Linked DNA regions of Homo sapiens. The protein of the gene in region 1 purifies or fractionates together with the protein of each later gene. This does not show direct contact. Each region holds a gene or a part of one and is shown in the gene's direction. Other genes may lie near its edges.

Region 1 (8,097 bases):
GTGGGCTTTATTCCGCAACTACAGCCTTTGTTTGATTGGCAGGCCAGCCCCTGCCACGGGGCCCTGCTGCCCATCTCACTTCCAGCCTGGCCTCTACCCTCACCTCCACTGTGTCTTCTAATTCCCCTCCACCCACGCCGCCTCCCTGCTGCCCCCGTCCCCTGTGCTTCCCACTGGCCAGAGGCGCAGCCCAGGCTCCTGGCCCGGGATTCGCACCCTCAGCAGGCAGGCCGCAGCAGAGCTCATGTGCCGTCCCCAACATCGCTGACCTGTGGGCGCCTCCACCCTGTGCATGCGAGGTCCCCTCTCCCTAGAGCACCCTCCCTGCCACCTTCTCCACCTACCAAGACCCATCCCACCCTTCAAAGCCAGTTCAGATGCCACCTGCTCAGATCCCATCACCCAGTGAGACCCTCCGACTTCCCCAGCACCTGACTGGCCTCTCTGGGAGTTGTCACTCCTGCCCTGGTTTTTCTTGTTCCTTTCCACGTTTCCCTCCTTCCTCTTCCAGCTTGTTCCAGAAAGGAAACGTGGGTCTCCTGCCCTCTGCTGTTTCCTGGTGCTTGCTTTCCCTGCCCTGCCCTCAGACCCCTCTGCTCTGGCCCTCTGCCTTGGCTGGCCGGCCCCTGCAGGGCCCGTCTCCCTGACACCATGGCAGATTCGCACTCATGCCTCAGCCCAGCTCAGCTGTCAGCCCTGAGCCCTCCCCTGCCGCACCTCCCATCCAGGCAGTGGGCAGGCTCTGGATGCCTTGTGTCCCCTGAGATGCCGTCAGTTATGTCGGTTATGTTCCTGTCTACCAGGTTTCCCTGCAGGGCTGGGGCCCTTTTCTGCCTTGGGTCCAATGTCCATCTTCCCTTTAGCCTGGAAGTTCCCAGAGGAGGCTCCCTCCTCTGTCTCATCTCTGAGTCCCAGGACCAGCCGGGCCGAGAAGGGGGCGCAACGGGAGTTCAGGGTTTGGAGCCTGGGGCCTGCTGAGCACCAGCCAGCTGCGGGGCTCAGGGTGAGCCTGGCTGCAGGGCCTCTTGGCCCTGTCTACACCCCGGGACCAAGCCTGGAACAAACGTTTGCACTAAATGAAGCCGGCCCCACCCAGGCCTCCCTGGGTCCGCTCCACCTTGAGTGGTGGGTGGCTGGGGGCGGTGGCTCACACCAGCTCTGCCCCCTCCAGAGCCCGAGCCATTCTGAGTGCCAGCCCAGCGCTGCTTTGTCTTCTAGTGGAGCGAGACCGTGCCCTGGGCCACCAGGAGCCCCATTGGAAGGAGTTCCGCTTTGACCTGACCCAGATCCCGGCTGGGGAGGCGGTCACAGCTGCGGAGTTCCGGATTTACAAGGTGCCCAGCATCCACCTGCTCAACAGGACCCTCCACGTCAGCATGTTCCAGGTGGTCCAGGAGCAGTCCAACAGGTGCCTTCCCCTTGGCCCGGGTGCCCCACCTAACCCCCCACCTCACAGTCTCATGGTCAAGGCAGCCCAGCAGGGAGTCGTGGTGGGCTGAAAGAGAGCCTCAAAGATGGGAAGGATGCTTGGCCCGAGGCCCCTGCACTGTGGGAAGAGCCCCAGTGACAATCCTGACTTCAAGTCCCTGCCCTGCCATCCTGGCTGTGGGGACTTGGACAGGTCACTGAGACTCAGTTTCCCCATGTGTACACCTCTGTGGGCTGAGGCAATGAGATGAGGCTCAGAAGGGGCGCAGCCAGAGTCAGGTGGGAGACACTCCGGTGACAGCCCCCAGCGGGCCCTGGAGACACGGAGGCAGCTGTGCCGGCCGCCGGTTAATTGTTCTTTCATGTCCACAGGGAGTCTGACTTGTTCTTTTTGGATCTTCAGACGCTCCGAGCTGGAGACGAGGGCTGGCTGGTGCTGGATGTCACAGCAGCCAGTGACTGCTGGTTGCTGAAGCGTCACAAGGACCTGGGACTCCGCCTCTATGTGGAGACTGAGGACGGTGAGGCTGGGGGCTCTGCAGCCCCTGGGGCTTCTCTGTGCCAGCACAGGCAGCGGTAGTGGCTTCCTGTGGCCCTGGGTGCCCGGCCTCACCAGCTGTGCCCGCTGCAAGGGTCACTGAGGTCCAGGGCACGAGGTCTGGCCTAGTGGGGGTGCTCCCTCCTCTCCCTCTGCTTCCCAGGAAGCAGGCGGCTCTTCCCACGGAGCAGCCTCCACCTTGGGAGTTTCTGTCCTGGGAAGGGAAGGAGGGGAAGTGGCTGTACCCTCAGGCACTGAGGCCAGGAGGCTGGGTTTGAAGCCCAGCTTGGCAGTGCCCTGCCTCAGTGACCTTGGCTGGGACTTACCTTTCCAGACCCCGTCTTCTCTTCCGCAGGATGGGGATTCACGCCCTTGTTCATTCCACAGGTGACACTGGGGAGAGCCTCTTTTATGCCAGGCAGTAGGAATACAGAGGCCAAAGTGGGCACGAGATGGGTGTGTTTGAGGCCCGGCAAGGGGGCGCCATGGAGCAGCGGTGAGGGCGGGGGACCCAGGGGCCATTCTGAGTCAGAGTAAACCAGGGCCAGGTGCTGGGGTTCTTAGCGTCATTTATTTTATTTACTAGCAGTGGAGGACGACAGGATCTGATTCAGGTTTTAAAAGAGAACCCTCTGAGATGCCCCCCTCTCGGGGTGGAGCAGAGCTCCCCACCCCTTCCGTGGGCTGCACCCAGTGACTTGCTTCCCGAAAGTGCGGTGTGGACAGGGCGTGGGGGACCTGACGCGCAGCGCCTCAGCCAGGTGAGGAAGGCTCACTGCAGTGACCGGCACGGTGCTAGCATGTGCCCTGGGTGAAAGGGAAGGAGAAGGCCACTGAGCCTCAGAGGGCCCCCTCCGTGAACCCAAAACCCCAGTCCAGCCACGAGAAAACCGTCAAACAAACCCAAAGAGAAGGGCTTTCCGCAGAATACCTGACAAGCGCTTCTCAAAACCGCCAAGCTCATCAAAAAAAAGGGAAGGTTGGGAAATTGGAGGAGCCCAGAGGCACCTAAGAAGACCAGCTCAGTGCATGTGGGGTCCTGGGTTGAGTCCTGGACCAGCAAAAGGTCATTAGGGAGAAGTTATGAAATCCAGATCGATCATGGTGTTTACTTAATAATAAGGTATCAGTATTGGTTCATTAGTTATGAGAAAGGTACCCTGCTAGTGTAAAATATTAGCATTTCCCAGAGGAAACTGGGTCCAGGTGTATGGGAACTCCTTGTGTAGTTTTTTTTTCTTTGAGACAGGGTTTGGCTCTGTTGCTCAGGCTGGAGTGCAGTGGCGCAATCACAGCTGACGGTAACCTCCAACTCCTGGGCGCGAGCGATCCTCCCACCTTAGCCTCTGTACTATCTTTACAAAGTTTTATGTAACTATCAACTGTTGTAAAATTAAAACTTAATATATGCATAAAATAAAGAACCCCCTGACTTCAGTGGAGAGAGCAGACTGAGATGGACAAGAGTGAAGTCAGAGAGACGTGTGGGGGCCCCACAGTGGTCCAGGTGGGCGCTGTGAGCGACTTGTTGGTAGCAGTGGAGATGGAGAAAGATGAGTCGATTTCAGTGTCAGGACATGCTTATAGCTGGCGAGGAGGTGAGGGAACAGGAGGAAGCCTGAATGATGTGTGGTTGGAGCCAGTGGATTTTTTTCAATAGATTTTTCTTTTTGGGGAAAAGATAGATGAAGGGCAGGTTTGAGGTGGGTGGCCAAGGGTTCTCTTTTGGCTGGAATATTACTGACCCCCCTGGGATGTTACTGAGATCACTGGTCCTCATGGAAATGCCATTACAGGGACCGGTGAGTGTGAAGACCCAGGCGAGGGAGGTGCTGGCATGTAAGTGGATTTAAAGCATGGGATGGGACCAGGTCATCTAGGGAAGGAGGGTAGTGATGGAGAAGAAAGAGGGCCTGGCCCAGAGCCCTGGGACCTCCAACATCCAGAGACCTCACAAGGAGGGGCCACAGAGAGCCCACAGAGACCAGCCAGGGAGGGAGCAGGACACCTGGAGGATGAGGTGATCTAGACGCCAGAGTAAAGTGTTTCCAGAAGCAAGGGTTTGTCATTTGTGTCCTGCTGTGGGCACTGAAGGCAAGAACAGAGAAGTGACCAAGGGTTTTGCCATCACAGAGGTTGTTGATGACCTAAATATCCGTGGAGTGTGGGTCTGACTGAGGAGGTGGAGGGAGACAGGCAGTGGAGGCAGGAGACAGCTCTTTCCAGAACCTTTGCTGGGGAAGGGGAGCAGAGACATGGGCTGGGGCTGGAGAGAACCCGGGACAAGGCAGGTCCTTTCCAGGTGAGGAGACGCCTGCACGCTGCTGTGGTGATGCAGTGATTCTGTGCAGAGGGAAGAAAACTGCAAAATTCCGCACAAGTTGGAGCAGGGAGCTGGAGTGGGGGAGGTGGAGAGGGCGGGGGGATGCAGAGGACAAGACGGGGGGCCTCTTCAGAGCAGGGACCCTTCCTGATGGAGGTGAGGGATACTGTCCCCACTGTCGCAGTGAGGGGTGAACCTGAGCTCTGGGAGGCTGTAGTGGGGCAGGCACTCACTCTCCGGGTTGTCACAGGATTAAAGGAGGGTGCTTGGCACAGAGTGATGCCCAGTGAAGGTGTTCATGAGCGTCGGTGTCACCCAGCGGCGCCTGCTCATTGGACACTTGGTGTCTTTAATGAGCTGGGGAAGCTGGGGGGAAGCTTGGGCGGGGTGGTTGGAGTTTGTGTCTGAGGCTCCACTGGGGCAGGAGGGGACCTAGCCTGTGCCCTTCTCGCGGAGCCTGACCTCAGCTCTGTCCTGCGCCCGGGCCTGTGCGCTGGACACGGAGGACTGACTCGGGGGCCCCCAGCCCAGGGCGGAGCCGGCCCCCTCCCTGTTGCGGGTCGCGGGCCTAGCCTAGAGCCTGCGCCTGGCCGGGGAGACCTGCTGGGAGGGAGTGCGTCAGGGCGCGGGCGCCCGCCCTGCTCTGTGACGCGCGGCCCGAGGCGCACGCAGGGCTCACACCACCTGTCCTGGCCTCCGACCCGGGCCGACTATGGCGGCGCTGCGGCTCCTGGCGTCAGTGCTCGGGCGCGGGGTCCCCGCCGGCGGCTCAGGGCTCGCGCTGTCCCAGGGCTGCGCCCGCTGCTTTGCCACCAGTCCCCGGCTCCGTGCCAAGTTCTACGCGGACCCGGTGGAGATGGTGAAGGACATCTCTGACGGGGCGACCGTCATGATCGGGGGCTTCGGGCTCTGCGGGATCCCCGAGAACCTGATCGCCGCGCTGCTCAGGACCCGCGTGAAAGACCTGCAGGTGGTCAGCAGCAACGTGGGCGTGGAGGACTTCGGCCTGGGCCTCCTGCTGGCCGCCAGGCAGGTCCGTCGCATCGTCTGTTCCTACGTGGGCGAGAACACCCTGTGCGAGAGCCAGTACCTGGCAGGAGAGCTGGAGCTGGAGCTCACGCCCCAGGGCACCCTGGCCGAGCGCATCCGCGCGGGGGGCGCCGGGGTGCCCGCCTTCTACACCCCCACGGGCTACGGGACCCTGGTCCAGGAAGGGGGCGCCCCCATCCGCTACACCCCGGACGGCCACCTGGCGCTCATGAGCCAGCCCCGAGAGGTGAGGGAGTTCAACGGCGACCACTTCCTTTTGGAGCGCGCCATCCGGGCAGACTTCGCCCTGGTGAAAGGGTGGAAGGCCGACCGGGCAGGAAACGTGGTCTTCAGGAGAAGCGCCCGCAATTTCAACGTGCCCATGTGCAAAGCTGCAGACGTCACGGCGGTGGAGGTGGAAGAGATCGTGGAGGTGGGGGCTTTCCCCCCAGAAGACATCCACGTTCCTAACATTTATGTAGATCGCGTGATAAAGGGGCAGAAATACGAGAAACGAATTGAGCGCTTAACGATCCTGAAAGAGGAAGATGGAGACGCTGGAAAGGAAGAGGACGCCAGGACGCGCATCATCAGACGCGCAGCTCTGGAATTTGAGGACGGCATGTACGCCAATCTGGGCATAGGCATCCCCCTGCTGGCCAGCAACTTCATCAGTCCCAGCATGACTGTCCATCTTCACAGTGAGAACGGGATCCTGGGCCTGGGCCCGTTTCCCACGGAAGATGAGGTGGATGCCGACCTCATCAATGCAGGCAAGCAGACGGTCACGGTGCTTCCCGGGGGCTGCTTCTTCGCCAGCGACGACTCCTTCGCCATGATCCGAGGGGGACACATCCAACTAACCATGCTTGGAGCCATGCAGGTTTCCAAATACGGCGACCTGGCGAACTGGATGATCCCTGGCAAGAAGGTGAAAGGCATGGGCGGTGCCATGGACTTGGTGTCCAGTCAGAAGACCAGAGTGGTGGTCACCATGCAGCACTGCACAAAGGACAACACCCCCAAGATCATGGAGAAATGCACCATGCCGCTGACCGGGAAGCGGTGCGTGGACCGCATCATCACCGAGAAGGCCGTGTTTGACGTGCACAGGAAGAAAGAGCTGACGCTGAGGGAGCTCTGGGAGGGCCTGACGGTGGACGACATCAAAAAGAGCACGGGGTGTGCCTTTGCTGTGTCCCCGAACCTCAGGCCCATGCAGCAGGTGGCACCCTGACGGGACCTGGATCTGGGCGGGGTGGTGCGCTCCTCAGGGCGGGTGCCACCGGGTTCCCCAGGGGAATACATGTCCCCAGCTCTGGGAGGGGTTTGCTACTGGCCTCCTACTTTCCTCCCTAGGTGGACAGTGCTCCTCTAGAGAGCTGCGACTTTAATTAAAAACAACAGGAAAACAGATCAGTTCCTCACTGTGTTTCTCGAGCACTGCAAGGCGCAGGTCTGCAGTGGTGAGGAATGGATGTCCGCTTTGCTCTGTGATGTTTACACAGAGCGTGCACAGCTCAGTGCATTCACAGCAAGATTTGATTCAAGCGCCTCCCTCGTACTTGAACCATGAAATGGAGATAAAAACTGACGAGGGAGAAAATCACTCAACCCAGAGTACACCTGAAGGGACATTTTACTACTGCAGTGAGAAATAGGCGAGCAAAGATGTGAGTTTGTGATTGGAAGACATGCTATCTTCACGAGCTTGTTTTTTCTTTTTCCTTCTCTTTCTTTTTTCTTTTTTTTGAGGCAGGGTCTGGCTCTGTCGCTCAGGCTGGAATGCAATGGAATGCAGTGATCTCACTGCAACCTCTGCCTCCTGGGCTCAAGCAATCCTAATTCAGCCTCCTGAGTAGCTGGGACTACAGGCGCACATCACAATGCCTGCTTATTTTTTTTTATTTTTTAAATTTATTTATAGAAATGGAGTTTCACCATGTTGCCCAGGCTGGTCTTGGACACTTGAGCTCAAGCGATCCACTTGCCTCAGCCTCCCAAAGTGCTGGGATTACAGACATGAGCCACTGAGTTGGGCCAATTAACCTTAGCTTACTGTAATTTTTTTTCTTTTTTAGACAGAATCTCGCTCTGTTACCTAGGCTAGAGTACAGTGGTCCAGTCTCAGCTCACTGCAACCCCTGCTTCCTGGGTTCAAGCAATTCTCATGTCTCAGCCTCTCAAGTAGCTGGGATTACAGGCATGTGCCACCATGCCTAGCTAATTTTTGTATATATATTTTTAACAGTAGAGATAGGGTTTCTCCATATTGGCCAGGCTGGTCTCAAACTCTGGGCCTCAGGTGATCCACCTGCCTTGGCCTCCCAAAGTACAGGCTTGAGCCATTGCACCCAGCCTTCTTGAACGTTTTTATCCGTTATCTGGTATTTCTTCTGGGGCCTTTGTTGTTAAATTTTGTTTCCCTGAAGCCTCCCCTCCTCCTCCCACATCTCTCCTCCTGGGACCTATGAGATGTTAAGCTTCTAGATGTCCGTAGAAGGAAAGCAGGACCATCTCCAAGGGAAGGGACCGGGTGATGGGAGAGACTGAGAGGGGAGAGGCTGCCGGTGCTGAAATCCACCAGGAAGCTTCCTCTGTGTGTGGCCAAAGGCTACAGCCTAGGACAGGAGGAGTTCTAGAACCCTAACCAAGGGACTAGATGAGTTTTCTCAGCTTCATTTGAATTGTTCCTGCATCATTCACACCAGACACTTAGGCCCTCCTCTCTGGGATGGAGGCCCAAACTGGCCACTTGTGTGATGGTCCGTTGTAACCC
Region 2 (8,156 bases), on another chromosome or scaffold:
TTAAAGAAGCCAGACACATAATACTATGTACTGTATGATTCTGTTTATATGAATTTTTTTAAAGGCAAAACTATAGAGACAACAAGTCAGTTGTTGCTTGGGTATTGGGAACAGATTGCACATGGGCACATGGGAACTTTTTCAAGTGATGCAGGTGTTCTCAAACTGGATTGTAGTGATCCAATTGTAGTTGCACAATTGTATAGATTTACTAAATTCACCAAACTATAAATGCATGAATATTATGTATTATAAATCATATCTCAAAAGAAAACCCAAACCAGGGAGGACTAGGACATAGACCTGTTTCATTTGCCTAGTATAGATGTTTGACCATTTTATATAAAATACTCAAATTGTGGGAGAAAATATTTGCAAAGTTTGCATCTGACAAAAGTCTAATATCTAGCATCTATAAGGAACTTAAACAGATGTGCAAGAGAAAAACAACCCCATTAAAAAGTGGGCAAAGGACAGCCGGGCACAGTGGCTCACGTCTGTAATTCCAACACTTTGGGAGGCCGAGGCGGGCAGATCACACGGTCAGGAGATGAGACCATCCTGGCTAACATGGTGAAACCCTGTCTCTACTAAAAATACAAAAAGATTAGCAGGGCGTGGTGGCAGGCACCTGTAGTCCCAGCTACTTGGGAGGCTGAGGCAGGAGAATGGCGTGAACCTGGGAAGCAGAGGTTGCAATGAGATGAGATCATGCCACTGCACTCTAGCCTGGGTGACAGAGCAAGACTCTGTCTCAAAAAAAAAAAAAGTGGGCAAAGGACATGAACAGGCACTTCTCAAAAGAAGACATACATGTGACCAACAAACATGAAAAAAAGCTCAATATCACTGATCATTAGAGAAACGCAAATCAAAACCACAATGAGACACCATCTCACACCAGTCAGAATGGCTATTACTAAGAAGTCAAAAAAATAACAGATGTCAGGAGGTTGTGGAGAAAAGGGAACGCTTATACACTGTTGGTAGGAGTGTAAATTAGTTCAACCATTGTGGAAAGCAGCAGGGTGATTCCTCAAAGAGCTAAAAGCAAAACTGCCATTCAACCCAGCAATCCCATTACTGGTTGATACCCAGAGGAATATAAATTATTCTACCATAAAGACACATGTGCATGTATGTTCATTGCATCATTCACAATAGCAAAGTCATTGAATCAGCCTAAATGCCCATCAGTGACAGATTGGATGAAGAAAAGGTGGTACATATACACCACGGAATACTATGCAGCCATAATAAAGCATAAGATCACATCTTTTGCGGGAACATGGATGGAGCTGGAAGCTATTATCCTTAGCAAACTCCCACAGGAACAGAAAACCAAATACTGCATGTTCTCACTTAGAAGTGGGAGCTGAATGATAAGAACTTAAGAACACAAAGAAGGAAACAAAAGACACTGGGGTCTACCTGAGTGGGGAAGGTGGGAGGGAGAGGAGCAGAAAAGATAACTATTGAATACTGGGCTTAATACCTGGGTGACGAACTCTGTACAACAAACCCCTGTGACATGTATTCACCTGTGTAATCTTCACATGCACCCCAAACCTAAAATAAAAGTTAATAAAATAAAATTGAACTTTGGTTTAAAAGATATAAAACTCTAAACTGGCTGCAACATATGAGTATCCAGCATTTTATCTGTATCTGGCATTGCATTGTTTCCTGTCACTAGGATGTGGGTTTTTCTATTCGTATGAGTTTCCCAGATATGTGAAGCTTACCCCTTTAATTTTGAAATGTTCTTTGAGTGTAACTATTTTGAAACAGGATTGGCTGAACCTTTGTGTTTTTACATTGTTTTGGTCATAATTATAATACTCGCTCACATTTTAGAAGAACAAATCCCCTCAGGGCTACTGATGTTGGAGAGGGTGTGGCTTCATCACTCATTAAATCATCCAAGTCTTCTCTGCCTTTTGCCTCCTTCTGTTTCTTCCCTTTTTGCTGTCAGCGTGTTTACTTTTAGAAATCTTGCTGTCCTTCAGTTACTGAATTTCCTCTTCTGTGGGCTAAAATCCCAGTAAGTATGTTTGTTAAAATTCTGAGTACACTGGAAGTAACTAGGCTGAAGTCTGAGGGATGCCCTTTTCACTGAAAGTACACGTACAGTTGTCCCCTTTATCCACGGTTTTGCTTTGAGTGGTTTCAGTTACCTGCAGTCTACTATGGTGTGAAAATATTAAATGGAAAATTCCAGAAATCAACAATTGATAAGTTTCAAATTGCACGCCATTCTGAGTCACACAGTGAGATCTTGCACAGTCTGCTTTGTCCCTCCCAGGATGTGAATCGTCCCTTTGTCCAGTGTCTCCACGCTGTCTCCACTCCCCATCTGTTAGTCACTCAGGAGCCATCTAGGTTATCAAATTGACTGTCATGGTACCACCATGCTTGTGTTCAAGTCACCCTTATTTTATTTAAATCATGGCCCCAAAATGCAAGAGCAATGATGGTGGCAATTCACTTATGCTAAAGAGAAGCCATGAAATGCTTCTTTTAAGTGAAAAGGTGAAAATTCTCAAGGAAAGAAAAAAATATGTATGTTGAGGTTTCTTGGTTCTTGGTAAGGACCAAGTTTCTATCTGTGAAATTGTGAAGAAGGAAAAACAAATTCATGTCATTTTCCTGTTGCACCTCAAACTGCAAAACTTATGGCCACAGGGCATGGCAAGTACTTAGTTAAGATGGGAAAGGCATTACATTTGTGATTGGAAGACATGAACAGAAGCGTGGTCAAATTGGTATCAGTCCAGTTCTGTAGTATTCATAGTTTCAGGCATCCACTAGGGATCTTGGATAAGGGGACACTCCTGTAGACTTTAATACATGACTTTCATTTGCTTCTTAGCTTTTTTTCTGGAAAGATGACATTGATGACCTGAAGATAAGTGAGGTATTTATTGAGCTAGTGTTCTGTTTGGGGCTTTTGGATGCCATGATTTCAATTCTAGGCCAGTTTTACACAGAGACAGAATAGACAAATTCCCCTTACCACTCTGAAGCCCTTTACTTCTTGACATTCTACCCTAATTGCAATATTATTTTAAATTTAAGTATATAGAAACTTCTGTACCATATGATCCAGCAATTCCACTTTTGGTATACAGCTAGAAGAATTTAAAGCAGGGACTCAAAACAGATACTTGTATACCAATACTTGTTGTTCACAGCAGCAGTATTCACAATGTGTAGAAATAACACAATGTCCATCAAGAGATTAATGGATAAACAAAATGTGTACAAACTGGATATTATTCAACCTTAAAAACAAATGGAATTTTGATACATGTTACATGAATGAACCTTGAAAACATTATGCTAGGTGAAATAAGCCAAACTCAGACAAATTATTATACGCTTCCACTTACATGAGGTACTTTGGCTAGAGAAATTCATAAACAGAAAGTAAAATCCTGGTTACTAGGGACTAAGGAAAGGGAGGGAATGGAGAATTATGTTTGGAGATTAAAACATCCTGAGGATGGATGGTGATGACAGTTGCCCAACATTGTGAGTGTACTTAATGCCACTGAATTACATACTTGCAAGTAACTAAAATGGTCAGTGTTTTGCTATGTATATATTATCACAATAAAAAGAAATATAGATTCATCTGGTTTAGGTAAGCCTTCAGAGCTTTCATATGAATATTTCAGATATTTCTTTGGAAACAGAGTTTAATAGAGACCATACTATTACCAGTGTAGGGAGAGGCCTCCCAGAGGAAGACAGCTTCACCTGCATTAAGGTGTTGCCAGTTGAGCACTGATGAGTAAATTTTTTATTTTATTTCTCATTTCTAGGCTATCCATCCAGGATGCGGTTTTCTCTCAGAAAACATGGAATTTGCTGAACTTTGTAAGCAAGAAGGAATTATTTTTATAGGCCCTCCTCCATCTGCAATTAGAGACATGGGTATAAAGAGGTATGAGTTTATATCTTTTAAAATATAACTGTATGAAGGTCAGTTGAAATAGTTTGGGCCAGGCATGTGGCTATGCCTGTAATACCAGTGTTTTGGGAGACTGAGGCAGGAGGATAGCTTGAGGCCAGGAATTCAAGACCAGCCTGGGCAACTTAGTGAGACCTTGTCTCTCAAAATTCTTTTTTTTAAATCAGCCAGGCCTGGGCACAGTGGCTCACACCTGTAATCCCAGCACTTTGGGAGGCCAAGGTGGGAGGATCACTTGAGCCCAGAAGTTTAAGACCAGCCTGGGCAACACAGGGAGACCCTGTCTCTACAAAATTTTTTAAAAATTCCAGGCATGGTGGCACGTGCCTGTGGGTCCAGCATCTTGGGAGGCTGAGGTGGGAGGATTGCTTGAGCCCAGGAGATCAAGGCTGCAGTGAGCTGTGATCACACCATCATACTTCAGTCTGGGTGACAGAGTAAGACCCCATCTCAAAAAAAAAAAAAAAAATTCAGCTGGGTATGGTGACACACACCTGTAGTCCCAGCTGCTTAGGAGGCTGAGGCAGAAGGATCACTTGAGCTCAGAAGTTTAAGGCTGTAGTGAAGTATAATTGCACCACTGCACTCTGGCATGGGCAACATTGTGAGACCCTGTCTCTAAAAAAAAAAAAGAAATAGTTTGTTTTACCTATAATATTTTAATTCTACCCTTCTGTTGTCATAGGCATAAGTTATTTATCTGTGACATAGAGAAATTCTATTGAGTTACAGAAAATACTTAATGTTTCTAATCAATATATTAGTATTTTGGGATTAAAAAATAGGGTGAGATGAGCTACCACATGAAATGAGGGAAACTAACTAATAGACATATTAAATTTGTATTATTTTGTCGTCTCAGACTCGATGTTTTCTTTAAAGAGTTCCATTGTAATTTATAGACTGGGCTATATTTATGTTTGTCTTGAATGAAATAATTTGTAGAATTTGGGGCATGTTGTTTTCTTTCCCACTCTAAAGCACATCCAAATCCATAATGGCTGCTGCTGGAGTACCTGTTGTGGAGGGTTATCATGGTGAGGACCAATCAGACCAGTGCCTGAAGGAACACGCCAGGAGAATTGGCTATCCTGTCATGATTAAAGCCGTCCGGGGTGGAGGAGGAAAAGTAAGATTGTGCATGCTTGTGTTTGCCAATTCAGGCTTGTCTTCTTTGTTTTATTTATGTTGTAGTCATAATCATCTTTTCTCTCTTAGGGAATGAGGATTGTTAGATCAGAACAAGAATTTCAAGAACAGTTAGAGTCAGCACGGAGAGAAGCTAAGAAGTCTTTCAATGATGATGCTATGCTGATCGAGAAGTTTGTAGACACACCGAGGTGGGTTGGCCTTATTTTTCTGACTCAGAGTTTAAAAATTAAATTATAAAAATAATGCATGCACATTCTATAAAATATAAAACTGTAGTAGTATATAAGTATATTATTACAAGTTTCCCAGTTCTGTCCTGTGATGTAACCACTGATTGTAGGATGGTATGCATTCTTCCAGCCATTTTCTATGTGAATAGAAACCTATATACATATACATACAGCAAACAAAATACATACCTAAGAACAGTGAATAGAATTTTTTTTTTTTTTTGGACGGAGTCTCTCATTCAGTTGCCCAGGCTGGAGTGCAGTGGCACGATCTCGGCTCATTGCAACCTCTGCCTCCCGAGTTCAAGCGATTGTCCTGCCTCAGCCTCCTAAGTAGCTGGAATTACAGGTATGCCCCACCATGCCTGGCTAATTTTTGTGTTTTTAGTAGAGATGGGGTTTTCCCATGTTGGTCAGGCAGGTCTCAAACTCCTGACCTCGTGATCCACCTGCCTCAGCCTCCCAAAGTGCTGGGATTACAGGCGTGAGCCACTGTGCCCGGCCAGTGAATAGAATCTTATACACTAATATTATATCACAGACATCTTTCCATGTCAGTAATTGTAGATCAGCCTCATTCTTTTTGTTGGTGACCTAGCGGTTCTATGATCTTGATATACCATTAATTCATTCAGTATGTTTCTTGTTGATGAAATTTAGGGTTTTTTTTCAATATTAGCAAATTATTGTAATAAATTCAGCTATATTTATAGAACTCTGTCAGTTGAGATGCTCAGGAAATGGAAGTAATTTTCTAAATTGAATTACAAGTGATATGCTGTTAATAGGAGCTAACACTTACATTGCACTTACCATGTGCCAGATTTTAAATATTTTACACATGCTAAATAATCTTGCTGTCCTTCTAATTCTAATATAATTCTTACAACAACCTCATTAGGTAAGTACTGTTTTCATTTTACAGGTGAGGACACTAAGCAACAGAATGGTTGTGTTGTGTTACTTTTCTGAGGTCACTCAGCTGTTAAGTAGTAAAGCTGAGATTTGAACCCAGGCACTTTGACTCCAGAGTTCATATCTAAGCCACTGCACTAAGCTACTTCTCTGGGTACCACTATAGCAAATGCAGTGTGAATCCCTATTTTTTTTTCTGGAATTTTATTTTCATGTTTGTTGTTTAAGATGCTGATTATAAAGTTTCTCATTTCATAGATTTTTATGACAATTGTTAAATTTTATATATATATGTGTGTGACCTGTAAGTCAAGTGAAAAGAATAATTTATTTGGGAACCATGACTGGAAAGAGATTTACCTTGAAGGTAACAGACTTGAAACTTCAGGCCCTTCTTTGACATTAATCTCTTCCAAGACCCTGACCTAATTTTGTATTTGCAGTTTTGTATTCTTCTCCTTAGAGAAGACCCCCAAATTGTTTTTTGTTTCAGGCCCTATAAAACAACTGTCCTGAGCATGGCATAGTAAATGAAATTCAATTAAGGCAAAAAAAAAGGGGGGGGCATTTCTAAGGTACATTGAAGGCTTCCTTTCAAGAAAGAATAGGCTAGCCATCCAAATCAGCATGCTCTTAAGTTAGAATTGTGGAGACATCAATAGCTTATTTCAGTAACTTATTTCAGAGACATCAATAGCTTATTTGAGTTATTATGTAACTCCATGCCTGCAGCATTTTTTGAATATGTAAGTTCTTTACTTATGAAATGTTAGCCATACATTGCGTCACATTATAATTTATTCCCCCAATAGCTGGAAAGCCCCTGGGAATCAAAGACCTGGTAGTATATACATTTTTATTTTTTGTATATATTGCCTGGCATACTACTTTCCTTGTAATAGGCATCAGTAATATTTTTTGAACTATAGAAGTAATATGAATACATTACAAATTTTTGGAAAATGCAGAAGATGGAAAACAACCCATAATTGTATTCTCCTAATTATTATTAATATTCTTATATACAGTCATGTGTTGCTTAATGACAGAGATACATTCTGAGAAATGCATTGTTAGGCAATTTCATTGTTGTGCACACATCATAGAGTGTCCTTACACAAACTGAGATAGTATAGTCAACTACACACCTAAGCTATGGTATAGCCTATTGCTCCTGAGCTACAAACCTGTACAAACGTTACTGTATTGAATACTGTAGGCATTTGTAACACAATGGTAAGTATTTGTGTATCTAAACATCTCAAAACATAGGAAAGGTAATGTATTGTGCTATTATGTCACTAAATGATAGGAATTTTTCAGCTCTATCATAATCTTATGAAATCACCATCCTATATGCAGTCTGGCATTGATGGAATGTCATTGTGTGGCACATTGTGTGACTCTATTTCTATTCTGTATTTCTAGTAATAACTTCTTTTTAATTGAAAGCAAGTTTATTAAGAAAGTAAAGGAATAAAGAATGGCTACTCCATAGACAGAGCAGCCCCAAGGGCTGCTGGTTGCCATTTTTATGGTTATTTCTTGATGATATGCTAAACAAGGGGTGGAGTATTCTTGCCTCCCCTTTTTAGACCATATAGGGTAACTTCCTGACGTTGCCATGGCATTTGCAAACTGTCATGGTGCTGGTGGGAGTGTAGCAGTGAAGACGACCAGAGGTCACTGTTGTTACCATCTTGGTTTTAGTGGGATTTAGCCAACGTCTTTACTGCAACCTGTTTTATCTGCAAGGTCCGTATGACCTGTATCTTTTGCTGACCTTCTATCTCTTCTTGTGATTAAAAATGCCTTAACTTGCTACTGGGAATGCAGCCCAGCAGGTCTTAGCCTTATTTTACCCAGCTCCTATTCAAGATGGG
Region 3 (4,841 bases), on another chromosome or scaffold:
AGCAGGAGGCTCCACACCCCTTAGCTCATAGTGTTCTTTTGTTGAGGAACAAGAAGCAGTTTGAGCCTCTTAGGTGGGAGGTGGGCAGGGAAGCTTTCTCAGAGGAGGGGGCATTTAGGGGGCATTTGAGCTAAAGGTAATAGGGTTTCCACAAGGCTGGGGCGTGGCCCTAACCTTCCCTCTGGGTCCCTGCTAAGTCACTTCAAATACACGAAGTTCCTGCCATGTGCCGGTGCCACTCCAAGTGCAGGGAACAAAAGCAACGCAAACCTCAGCCCTCCTGGTGCTGCCATTGTGGTGGGGGAGACGGACAGTAACAGAGATGGAGAGGGAACTCCTGGAGTATATGAGGGTGGGGGTCCTGTAGGGAGCAGCCAAGCCAGCCGGGTGTGGTGCACTGTAGGGGTGGCTGGGGTCCGTCACTGGAGTGACACTGAAGTATGGACCAGAGGATGTGAGGGGGGAGCTGTGTGGTGTCTTGAGGCAGGTGTGAGCCTGGCGTGTTTGAGGAGCTGGGAGGAGCCCAGAGGGGCAGGTGTGGAGTGAGCAGGTGTGGAGTGAGCGGGTGTAGGGTGAGCAGGTGTGGGGTGGTTGGAGGTAAAGTCCAGGAGGTGGTGGGTGGGGGTGCAGATGGTGCAGGTTGGGTGGGGCCTCAAGGCCTTTGCCTGTTGCAGGGATGTCGACTTTTACTCAAAGTGGGACAGGAGCCGTGGGTGGGGAGGAGTCTGCTCTTCCTTGGCCTGGCTCACCTCTTCATGGAATCCGCGGGCTGCCCTGTGGATAAGGGATTGGGCAGTGTGTGAAGGGCTAGTAAGGAGGCTGCTCAGTAACTTGGGCTTGACCAGGGTGGTGCAGAGGAGGAGGTAAGAGGGGTTAGGTTCTGAAGGTGGAGTAGATGTGGAGAATGGCGGGAAGTTTGGCTTGGAGATGATACTGGACTCTTCAGCCTGAGCAGTTGGAAGGGTGGAGTTGCTTTCAGCTGAGCAAGAGGAGACCTGGGTGGGCAGATGCTGGGGGGCATCAGGAGCTGAGGTGTTTCCTTTCCCCTTGAAGCCTGGTGACTGCTGGCCTGAGCCACGCTTGAGCCGTGGGTCATGTGAGTGTGAATGAGTGTGAGTGCATGTGAGTCTCCGCCCCTGCTCACCACCCTCTCATCCCCTGCAGCGGTGGGGGCGGCGTACGCAGCCAAGCGGGCCAATGCCAACAGGGTCGTCATCTGTTACTTCGGCGAGGGGGCAGCCAGTGAGGGGGACGCCCATGCCGGCTTCAACTTCGCTGCCACACTTGAGTGCCCCATCATCTTCTTCTGCCGGAACAATGGCTACGCCATCTCCACGCCCACCTCTGAGCAGTATCGCGGCGATGGCATTGGTATGGGCTCTGCTGGCTGCTCCCCACCCCGCTGGGATCATCTCCTTCCCTCCCCAATCCTGCCACCTTCCTGCCACCCCTACCCTCCTTCCTGGTTCTCGTCCTGTGTCCTGTGGCGTCTGGCACTTGGTCAGCCACAGGAGTTGAGGTCCTGAGCACTCAGCCTTGCTCTCTGTCCTCTCCCTGCTCGTCCCCTTGGCCTCGTGCATGTTCCTTATCTCAGCCCTGGCCTGACCTGCCTTCTCTGTGTCCCCACAGCAGCACGAGGCCCCGGGTATGGCATCATGTCAATCCGCGTGGATGGTAATGATGTGTTTGCCGTATACAACGCCACAAAGGAGGCCCGACGGCGGGCTGTGGCAGAGAACCAGCCCTTCCTCATCGAGGCCATGACCTACAGGTGCCTGCCGCTCCCCCCGTCAGCACCCCCACAGCACTGACAGCCACCGTAGCATCTTCCTCATATCGATCACTGTCTCCAAAACATGGCCTTATCACCTGATGTTGCATCTCCCCCTTGCCTTTATTCCGTTTCCACTCCTCCTTCCCTAGTTCATCCCCCATCCTCCCTCCTGACCCCCACTCCAGGGAGCCCACACTGACCTGGGGCCCCTTGCCCCTGTGCAGGATCGGGCACCACAGCACCAGTGACGACAGTTCAGCGTACCGCTCGGTGGATGAGGTCAATTACTGGGATAAACAGGACCACCCCATCTCCCGGCTGCGGCACTATCTGCTGAGCCAAGGCTGGTGGGATGAGGAGCAGGAGAAGGCCTGGAGGAAGCAGTCCCGCAGGAAGGTGAGGGTGCCCCGCCCGGGAGGGTGTGCTGGGGGCTGCTGCGGCCTGCAGAGCTTGGGAAGGATTTGTGGAACACCGAACTGGGAGGCTCAGGGATAACCCCAGTGATGTCTCAGATGTGGCCTGTGGAGCCAGGCTGCTGGGGCCATGTGTGTCCTGGCTCTGTGTCCTTGGCATGTTGCCCTCCACTTCCTTGTCTTTGAAAGGGGATGCTGGTGGTGCCCATTTCAGAAACTGGTTTGAGACTGGGCATGGTGGCTCACACCTGTAATCCCAGCACTTTGGGAGGCCGAGGTGGCAGATCACTTGAGGTCAGGAGCTTGAGAACAGCCTGGCCAAACATGGTCAAGCCCTGTCTCTACTAAAAATACAAAAATTAGGGCTGGGCGCAGTGGCTCACGCCTGTAATCCCAGCACTTTGGGAGGCCAAGGCGGACAGATCACCTGAGGTCGGGAGTTTGAGACCAGCCTGGCCAACATGGTGAAACCTCGTCTCTAATAAAAATACAAAAATTAGCCGGGCATGGTGCCGGGTGCCTGTAATCCCAGCTACTTGGGAGGCCGAGGCAGGAGAATTGCTTGAACCTGGGAGGTAGAGGTTGCAGTGAGCTGAGATCGTACCATTGCACTCCAGCCTGGGCAACGAGAGCAAGACTCCATCTCAAAAAAAAAAATTAGCCAGGCGTGGTGGTGCGTGCCTGTAGTCCCAGCTACTCAGGAAGGTGAGGCAGAAGAATCGCTTGAACCCGGGAGGTGGAACTTGCAGTGATTGGAGATGGCGCCACTGCACTCCAGCCTGGGCAACAGAGCAAGACTATCTCTTAAAAAAAAAAAAAAGCTGGTTTGAGGATTAGGTGGCAAACCGTGGTGGAGTGTACATGCCCTGCCCAGAGTCAGTGTGCCACCCTCCCTGGCCCGGTCATTAGGACCCAGGGCCCGTGCAGCCCAGTGGTGAGGGCAGCACCCGGCATAGGGCAGCACCGTGTGTCCTGTCCCTGCCCTTCTCTGTGCCTCAGTTTCCTCATTGCTTAGCTGTCTACCTCTTAGGGCTGCTGAAAGCCTTAAATGATTCCACACACTTGGATAGCACCTGATCCCTGCTGGGATTTGAGGGTTTTCATTACACTTCTGCTAGGATAATCATTTCCATTGTCGAGGTGGGAACACAAAGGCTTGGAGTGGTTAATTCCTTGCCAAGGCCCCGCAGGAGGAAGCAGGGTCCTGCATGGGAGGCCGGCTAGCCTGCCCACTGCCCCATGTCCCCACAGGTGATGGAGGCCTTTGAGCAGGCCGAGCGGAAGCCCAAACCCAACCCCAACCTACTCTTCTCAGACGTGTATCAGGAGATGCCCGCCCAGCTCCGCAAGCAGCAGGAGTCTCTGGCCCGCCACCTGCAGACCTACGGGGAGCACTACCCACTGGATCACTTCGATAAGTGAGACCTGCTCAGCCCACCCCCACCCATCCTCAGCTACCCCGAGAGGTAGCCCCACTCTAAGGGGAGCAGGGGGACCTGACAGCACACCACTGTCTTCCCCAGTCAGCTCCCTCTAAAATACTCAGCGGCCAGGGCGGCTGCCACTCTTCACCCCTGCTCCTCCCGGCTGTTACATTGTCAGGGGACAGCATCTGCAGCAGTTGCTGAGGCTCCGTCAGCCCCCTCTTCACCTGTTGTTACAGTGCCTTCTCCCAGGGGCTGGGTGAGGGCACATTCAGGACTAGAAGCCCCTCTGGGCATGGGGTGGACATGGCAGGTCAGCCTGTGGAACTTGCGCAGGTGCGAGTGGCCAGCAGAGGTCACGAATAAACTGCATCTCTGCGCCTGGCTCTCTACCACCTCTGGTCTTTGTTTCCTGGAGTTTGGGGGTGATTTGAGGCCACCCCCAGCTTCTCCACCTTAGATAAATAAGGTCAAGGCTCTTGAGATACCTACTTCCCCCGGAAGCTTGCGCAAGCTGGAAGGTTAACTTCAGCAGACAGGATGGGGGTGGGGGGGTCCTCCAGAGATGGTCTCCTGCTCTCTCACAGAATGGGAGAAGCCTGCTGTCCAGCAGAGTGATGGGGAGCCCAGTGGAGCTAGCCCTGCCCAGCAGGGGTGCAGGGGAGCGTCCAGGATGAAGGTCAGGGTGTGGCCAAGCCCTGCTCCCCACCACTCCAGGGCCCCACAGATGCAAAAACAACCCCAGGCCTCAGAGTGGGGAGTGCATGTTTTTCAAAAACAAAAAGTAGGCAAAAACAGTCCACCACCCCATCTTTCCTGCCCAGGCCCCTGGCTGGGGGAGGCCAAGGAGTGGCTTAAGTTGTCCAGCTTCTGGGCCCTCCTCCCTCCCATCAAGACCTGGAAGGAGGGGCTGAGCCAGGGGCCGGCCCCAGAGGCCCAGGCCAGGTCAGCACCTCCGCCCTCCCCAATGAGAGTCAGCACTGGAGCCTTGGGTCTTGCAGTTGTTTCCAGAGCCGAATGCTGGCCTGGGGGCCCAGGGGCCGTACCAGCAGCAGGTTGCGGAAAGCACAGTGGTCCGCAGTGCGGTCTGCTGGCCAGGCTGTGAGGAAGCCTGGGTGGGCCTGGGGCACCAGGCCCAGGGCTCGGATGCAAAGGCCAGTGTAGACGTCCTCAAAGGGGAAGGGTGCCACACGGGCTGCCGCCCGCAGCAGCCAGGGTGCCAGGCGCCCG

What was found. The genes of interacting proteins can lie anywhere in the genome.
Region 2: the proteins of OXCT2 (region 1) and MCCC1 purify together in Homo sapiens (affinity purification with mass spectrometry; 3 studies listed by BioGRID and IntAct, with this or other methods). This does not show direct contact.
Region 3: the proteins of OXCT2 (region 1) and BCKDHA purify together in Homo sapiens (affinity purification with mass spectrometry; 2 studies listed by BioGRID and IntAct, with this or other methods). This does not show direct contact.

Annotation. Positions count from the first base shown.
Region 1 is NC_000001.11:39,768,160-39,776,256, reverse strand, and holds OXCT2 (succinyl-CoA:3-ketoacid coenzyme A transferase 2, mitochondrial precursor), read left to right. Parts: upstream 1-4,908; 5' UTR 4,909-5,001; coding exon 5,002-6,555; 3' UTR 6,556-6,734; downstream 6,735-8,097. Other genes in the region: BMP8B (bone morphogenetic protein 8B), read left to right, coding at 1,219-1,408, 1,801-1,949. UniProt on the Homo sapiens protein: Key enzyme for ketone body catabolism. Transfers the CoA moiety from succinate to acetoacetate. Formation of the enzyme-CoA intermediate proceeds via an unstable anhydride species formed between the carboxylate groups of the enzyme and substrate.
Region 2 is NC_000003.12:183,068,159-183,076,314, reverse strand, and holds part of MCCC1 (methylcrotonoyl-CoA carboxylase subunit alpha, mitochondrial isoform 1 precursor), read left to right. Parts: intron 1-3,827; coding exon 3,828-3,949; intron 3,950-4,957; coding exon 4,958-5,105; intron 5,106-5,194; coding exon 5,195-5,316; intron 5,317-8,156.
Region 3 is NC_000019.10:41,421,000-41,425,840, forward strand, and holds the end of BCKDHA (2-oxoisovalerate dehydrogenase subunit alpha, mitochondrial isoform 1 precursor), read left to right. Parts: intron 1-1,164; coding exon 1,165-1,371; intron 1,372-1,629; coding exon 1,630-1,771; intron 1,772-1,998; coding exon 1,999-2,170; intron 2,171-3,438; coding exon 3,439-3,609; 3' UTR 3,610-4,003; downstream 4,004-4,841. Other genes in the region: B3GNT8 (UDP-GlcNAc:betaGal beta-1,3-N-acetylglucosaminyltransferase 8), read right to left, coding at 4,586-4,841. UniProt on the Homo sapiens protein: Together with BCKDHB forms the heterotetrameric E1 subunit of the mitochondrial branched-chain alpha-ketoacid dehydrogenase (BCKD) complex.